Linked DNA regions of Homo sapiens. The protein of the gene in region 1 purifies or fractionates together with the protein of each later gene. This does not show direct contact. Each region holds a gene or a part of one and is shown on either strand. Other genes may lie near its edges.

The links.
Region 2: the proteins of LRRCC1 (region 1) and STRN purify together in Homo sapiens (affinity purification with mass spectrometry; 2 studies listed by BioGRID and IntAct, with this or other methods). This does not show direct contact.

What each region holds. Positions count from the first base shown.
Region 1 is NC_000008.11:85,127,502-85,131,324, reverse strand, and holds part of LRRCC1 (leucine-rich repeat and coiled-coil domain-containing protein 1), read right to left. Parts: intron 2,151-3,823; coding exon 1,946-2,150; intron 1,407-1,945; coding exon 1,267-1,406; intron 1-1,266. UniProt on the Homo sapiens protein: Required for the organization of the mitotic spindle. Maintains the structural integrity of centrosomes during mitosis.
Region 2 is NC_000002.12:36,956,390-36,960,212, reverse strand, and holds part of STRN (striatin), read left to right. Parts: intron 1-3,823. UniProt on the Homo sapiens protein: Calmodulin-binding scaffolding protein which is the center of the striatin-interacting phosphatase and kinase (STRIPAK) complexes.

The DNA.
Region 1 (3,823 bases):
CTTTACGGTTCTCCACTACTTTTCTTGCATTACTCAAACTCATAATGTGAAACCCATTATTTCCAGTTTTTGGTTTCTTTAAACTGGAATGAAACTAAGTAAAGGAAACTAAGTACAAAATTCCTGTAAAGGAAACAAAGTACAAAATTCTAGATTTTTGTGATTATTTTCCCCCAATCTTTTATAATTGTCTCATCTATACAAGATAACAATTTTCCCCAGAGCACCAAAATTTATGTAGACACAAAACAAAACAGGTTTCGGAATAAATACAATTAACATATGATAATCATACAATTTCACTGGTAGGATAGTAAATAGATAACTGAAATAGATAAACTGAAAATGTTGAAATTATTACAGATTCTGTAGAGCAAGAGTTGAGAAACTACAGCCCATCAGCCAAATGTGACCTACTGCCTTTTTCTTTGTAAATACACTTTTATTGGAACACAGCCATGCCGTTCATTTATGTATTATCTATGGCTACTTTTGTGCTACAAAGGCAAAGTTAGGTATGGCCTGCAGAGCCTGAAATATTTTCTATGTGACCCTTTACAGAAAAAGTTCACTGACCCCTCCTTCAGAGGAATAAAGAATACTGATTAATTTACTAATTAATTAACTTGGGGGTCAATTAAAAATTTTCTCTCTATATAAAGACCAACTTTTGGCTGGGTTTGAAGAAATGAACAATAAGCTATATTGTTATAAACCTATACCTCAAATGCTGATAACAAAGGCAACTATTCATTTTTTAGCTACTAGTTCTTGCTATAGGGCTGATTCTAATGTATACATACATGAACACGGCATTTTCCACTAACTAATTCTGTCAGACTTCACCAATGCTCAATCACTATCTTTAAATACTGGTGGTGGGGGCCAGGCGCGGTGGCTCATGCCTGTAATCTCAGCACTTTGGGAGGCCGAGTGGGGCAGATCATGAGGTCAGGAGATCGAGACCATCCTGGTTAACATGGTGAAACCCCATCTCTACTAAAAATACAAAAAAAAAAAAAATTAGCCAGCATGGTGGCGGGCGCCTGTAGTCCCAGCTACTCGGGAGGCTGAGGCAGGAGAATGGCGTGAACTCGGGAGGCAGAGCTTGCAGTGAGCCGAGATTGCGCCATTGCACTCCAGCCTGGACGACAGAGCAAGACTCCGTCTCAAAAAAAAAAAAAAAAAATACTGGTAGTGGGGAACCAGTAGCTTTCTTTTTCTTTTTTTAAATGCCAATACATTCCTGATACATTTTTCATTTACCTGTGTTCCTGTTCTTTCAATGCAAGAAGTTGATGAAGTTGTTGCGCTTGTTCTCTTTCTCGATGAAGGGAAGTTCTAAGTAAGTATATTTCTCTATCGGCAGCTGAAGCTTTGAGTTCCACCTCTTGGATCAGTCTTATCTGAGTAAAATACCCACAATTACATTATTTAGATAATAGTCTCCCCTGCTATTTTAATGTCAGTTTCCATAAGTACCTTTTAAATGACAGTGTCCGGTGACTAAGTTGATTTTCAAACTTTAATAAATTAATGATGTTACAGTCACACAAAGTGCAGCCTTGGAAGGAACAAATACACTAGCATTAACTATTGCTTATTTGCATCACAGATTTTAATGATAATTTCCATTCAGAAAGCATGAAAATGAAATTCCTTCAATCACCTGAAAGCCTTTTAAAAAGCCAGCTCTCTCAGAATAAAAGCCTAACCACCTGCAACATTTCCATCAACTTTTCTTTTTAATTGCTTTGTGTTAAGAGCTAGTAGTCTTAATTTAGACATAATTCAACAGGCTATGTGACCGTTAAATTAACAGCAATTTAATTTTTGCATATGGCCTTACATCTTTTAGGTTTTCTAGGTAGTATAATTTGTTTCACGATAGAAGCTATGAATTTGTGTTAATCTGTGCTACTCATATATTAAAATAGAGAAATACCTGTGCTGCCTGCTGCTGCCTTTTTTGTCTCTCCATTTTTTCTAATGTTTTTTCGAGGGTTCTTAAGTGTTTAAGGTGATCCTCTTGTTGATCTTTTGCTTTCATTAGTTCAACAGTCAGTTTTTTAATTTCATTTTGAAGTTTGTGAACCATAACTTCGAGTTGTCCTTTGGAATTTCTCTCTCTAAAAATAATTTCCTTTAGCCTAAAGCAGAAGTTATATGTGGTGTTAAGTATATTACACATATAAAAATGATAAAATTGTTGACTTCAATGAGAGTACTCTCTGAACTGGTCTTCCTTTGTTCATGCTCTCAACTCCTGTTTGATATGCTATATGAAAGCGTGCTAGACTGTATATGGGTAGGGGCAGGGAAAGCCACAGAGAAACAGAAATGGAACAATCATCTAAGCAACAGTTAAGGGCCTAAAGAAAGGTAACAGTTTTGGGATACAGAGGAGATAGTTCAACATCTTTTAAGATGATATCAATATCAATTGATGAATAAAAGTATCAATAAAGATGGTAATATCAACTGGTTGTGGGATAGGAGAAAGAGAAAGGAAGCAAAAAACAAAGATTCCTAGATTTCTATAGTTTTGGTGACTGACTGGATGCTGGATGGGGCACCATTTATTAGGGCAAGAAATATAAAATAAGGAAGAAGAATGAATCCACCTGAGGCCATGGTGATCTTAAGAAACTTATGAGGAATACAGGCAAGGCATTTTTAGTAGATAATTAGATGAACAGATCTGGTCATCAAGGAGGTTTGGATAATAAAGATACCATAGTAGGTAAGATTCATTTTTTGAAATTGTATATACTCACAGCATGGCACCCACATGCCAGACCCTGCATTAGGGATACAGAGTCCCTACCAAGGCACATAAGGGAACAGGGAGATTGGTAAGGATCTAATCTCAAACAAACATGTGGTGGTGGGGGGGGTGGGGGGGTGGCACAGATAAAAGAAGAATCAGAAAAGATTGATTTTTCATGAGAAAAATGAATACATAACTTGGGAAACACGGGCACAACAATAGGTTAAGTAAGAAGAAAGATAAAGTGTGCCCAAAGTCTTCCAGTTTAAATGGACTTTGGCTAGCAGCCCTAGACACAGCGTCCTCTAATATCCCACTAAATACCTAGAATACAGAATAAAGTAAAAATTCATACACATATAACTGAAAACAAAGGATAAGAGAATGCCAAAATTTGGGAATAATTTCAATTACAAGGCAAATGGAACTAAATTGAAATTAAAAACAACTCCTACAACACTCAGGCTTTGCCTCATGAAACTGCTCCATTCTGAAAAAAGGAAGACATATCTTTTCTCTTCTACTATCTGTCCATGACTCAGTCACAAGATCTCTATAAATCTGTCACTACATAATGTTGGTTACTCATGCACTTACTGAAAGCAGGAGTGCTGTTTTTCTGAGGTAGTCAGAGCACTCTTAATTGAGACATCCTGTTCCCTCATCCATACCCAGTAGCTTCTTGTGTCAATTCAGACAGACATTTATAAAACACAAATAAGGCAGGAAGTTGGTGGGTAGTGGTAGAAGGGCTAGTGATAACATAACGCATCACAGCTTTATAATTATAGAGGTTCTCATAGCATGCATGTTGCGTATTAGAATTGTCCTTATACTCCACAGGTACAACCTATCAGAGAAACATGCAGTGGGGTAGAAAACACCACGTCAGTATCACAAAAGTGCCTAAAAGAAATCGGGAACTGGGCTGTGAACTGTGTACATCAACTTATCCAAATCAGATTTTAGAAGGGGAATTATCCACTGCACAATCAGACAAGAAATGGAACCAAGAGCAACTTCCCAAAGTGTGTTAGCAAATGTCAAGTCTAA
Region 2 (3,823 bases), on another chromosome or scaffold:
CATTACATCATGGGTAACAAATTGTGTAAATTTACTAACCACATTATGAAATGAATCCTACATTTTATTTGGCTCTTTAAGCCACTTCCTTTACATGTGGAGCAGGTGAACTCCATTGTCATATGGTATAATTTTGTCAGCAGGTTCATTTTTCATTCTACTCATATTCTTGATAATTTCATAATCTTTATATTTTAGAAAGGTTATAGAGGCTTTAATCTTTTAAAACGTATCCTATTATTTGTCTCTTCAGTTCAGTGTTTCTCAACCTTAGCTATAATCTTAGAATAATCAGAGGGAATGAATACTAATTCCCTGGACTCTACCCCAGATCAATTAAATCAGAATCTTAGGAATGAGGACCCCTAGCATTAGTATTTTTTGAGCTCCCCAGTATACAGCAAGGATTGAGAACCACTGCTTTAGTTGTTTTTTTCTGTTTTTACATTATCTATAAAAGTTTGGTGATTTCAACACTTTTATTAGTATTCCCTATATGGATGGCTTTTTATAGAATTTGGGATATAATTTCTTTTTCCATTGTTCTTTCTGATGATAGCATTTTATTTTTAGGCAGTAGAATATTATAATTTGAATCACCTCCTTCTGACTGAGATGTAATGACAGAGTAATCTTTGAGCTGGAATGAACTTTGGAAATAATCAGCTCAGTTAGGTAAAGTGAGGTTCAGAGGGAGGCTGAATGACCAAGAATGAAATAGGTTTTGTACAAGCTGTCACTTACATCTCCAGATATCTTTACAGTTTTATTTTTTCATATTTTTTGTCTAGGGGCCAGGCTAATCATCTGTATCATTCCAATTTGAGTATATGTACTGCTACAGCCAGCACTCTTTACAGTTTTCTTTAAAGCCCTTTCAGATACACTGTACCATTTAAACTGTACAACCTTCTGAGGTAAGCAGAGCCACACTGATGCTTATTTATTTATTTTTTTTAGATAACAGGCATAAAGATTTTACTGTGTTTTACTGCTTTCTAGCTTATTTTATTGGTTGCATTTAAGATTTTCTCTGTCTTTGGTGTTATGTAGTTTCATTATGATGTGTCACAGTATAGATTTCTTTTTCTTTTTTTGAGATGGAGTCTAGCTGTGTCGCCCAGGCTGGAGTGCAGTGGCACAATCTCGGCTCACTGCAACCTCCGCCTCCTGGGTTCAAGCAATTCTCCTGCCTCAGCCTCCCGAGTAGCTGGGACTACAGACGCCCGCCACCATGCCCTGCTAATTTTTTGTATTTTTGGTAGAGATGGGGTTTCACTGTGTCAGCTAGGATGGTCTCTATCTGACCTCGTGATCCGCCCGCCTCAGCCTCCCAAGTGTTGGGATTAGAGGCGTGAGCTACCACACCCAGCCTATATTTCTTTTTATTTTGTTTGGGACTTCATTAGACTCCTTGAATTTGTGGATTGGCTTCTCATTAGTTCTGCAGATTTCTCAGTTGCTATCTTGTTAGGTTTGTCCTCGATTGCATTTTCCTTTCTTCTCCTTTTGGGTTTTTGATTACATGATCTTAGGGCTTCTCCATTATCTGCTCTGTATTTTCCATCTTTTTATCTCTCCATGCTTTATTCTCGATAATTTATTCTGACTTATTTTCCAGTCTGTGAATGACATATCTTCCACTCCATTAATTTTCTCTTCAGTTGAGTCTGATTTGTTAAAACCATCCACTGAATTTTTAGTTTTGGTTATTGTTGAAGTTCATTTTGGTTTCTTTTCAAATCTGCTCGGTCATTTCTTAAAAAAATATTGTTCTGTTCTCTGCAGGTATTTTCAGTGTCATCTTTAATTCTTTAAACATAGTAAGTAGTTATTTTTTAGTTAGTGTCTTTGCGTTTCCTTTATCTGAGGTCTTAGAGGTGCCTTTGTGTGGTCTGTTGTCTCTGCTGGTTCTTGTTCATGACGACGTGTTCCCTTGTATCCTTAGTTTACCTTTGTGTGCCGCCTGCTGTCCTTGAAAAACTGTGAGACTAGACAGGCACGGTGGCTCATGCTTGTAATACCAGCACTTTGGGAGGCTGAGGCGGGCAGATCACCTGAGGTCCGGAGTTCAAGACCAGCTTGGCCAACATGGTGAAACCCCGTCTCTACTAAAAATATAAAAATTAGCCAGGTGTGTTGGCACATGCTTGTAATCCCAGTTTCTCAGGAGGCTGAGGCAGGAGAATCACTTGAACCCAGGAGGCGGAGCTTGCAGTGAGCCAAGATCGCGCCACTGTACTCCAGCCTGGGCAACAGAGTGAGACTGTCTCAAAAAAAAAAAAAAAAAAAAAATTAGCTGGGCGTCGTGATGGGCGCCTGTAATCCCAGCTACTCGGGGGGCTGAGGCAGGAGAATCACCTGAACCTGGGAGGCAGAGGTTGCAGTGAGCCGAGATTGCACCACTGCAATCCAGCCTGGGCAACAGAGACTCCACCTCAAAAAAAAAAAAAAAAAAAAAAAAAAAAGACAAAAAGAAGAACTATGAGACTAATCTGAGCTCTCAAATAAAGGTATCTTCTTCAGAAAGGTTTTTTTTTGTTTGTTTTTTGTTTTTTACATTTCCTTCTGGTAGATGTCTAGAGTTATTACCAGTCTGGGGCCACTTTATTTTTTATTTTTATTTTTTGAGATGGTCTTACTGTCACCCAGGCTGGAGTGCAGTGGTGTGATCTTGGCTTACTGCAACCTCTGCCTTCCAGGTTCCAGCGATTCTTGTGCCTCAGCCTCCGGAGTGGCTGGGACTATAGGTGTGCACCACCACGCCTGGCTAATTTTTGTATTTTTAGTAGAGACGAGGTTTTGCCATGTTGGCCAGGCTTGTCTTGAACCCCTGGCCTCAAGTGATCTGCCCGCCTCCGCCTCCCAAAGTGCTGGAATTACAGACGTGAGCCACTGCCAGGCCTGGAATCACTTTAAAGTAAATGCATTACTTAAGATGTTTGGGCCACCCAGCTGATGTGAATTTTGGTTGTGAATACATTTGAGGGCCAATATACTTCTGTTTTGTCTTTGCTTTGAAGACATAAGCCCTTTAGGGATCTAGCTAAATGTGAGGTATATCACCTATTAGACTGTCCACTCTGGAGGGGTAGGGTGTTTGATTTTTGCTCCTTGAGTCCTGCAAGGCTGTTTGTTGTGATTGGTCAATATCCTAAGGGCAAAAATGGCTTTTTGTTCCTTTACCTCACTGGGTTCCCATTTTCCCTTTTATTTTGGCCAGATAATTCCTTCCTATTTTTGTGTTGCTTTTAAGAAAATTGTGAAAATATTTTGTCCAGAATTTTTGGCTGCGTTCAGTAGAAGAATTGTTGTGGGGCACCATAACTGGAAACTGAATTCTCTTATTTTACTTTCAAAATCTGACAAATAAGAATGGCCCTACTAATTTTTGGGGGAGAAATAATGTTGACAGACAGCACTTCTTTATCAAGAGATGTGCCTATTTAGTCCTGAACTTTATTTCAAATCTACTTTTCTTTGAATGGTAAAGGGAGACCTACAGTTTTTCTCCAAAATCTTGATAACTGAAGCAGAGTTTAAAACAAACAAAACCCTTTGCTATGCAGTCAATGAAAGGTGTTTGAAAGTTCAGATAATCTGGATAGAGTCCCCTTTGCCCACCTGCTATCTCCTTGATGTCAGCTATACTTTTGATTTGCTAATGTGTGTAGCATCCAGGTTTCAATTCTGGGCCATTAGAAATAAAATTGTCCTTGGATCTTTGGCGTTTCTTGCCTCGGTGGCCAATCTGACAAAACAATCTGTTGACCATCATAATTGGACAGTTGAAAGTATGGGCCTCAGAGTCAGACATCTCTAT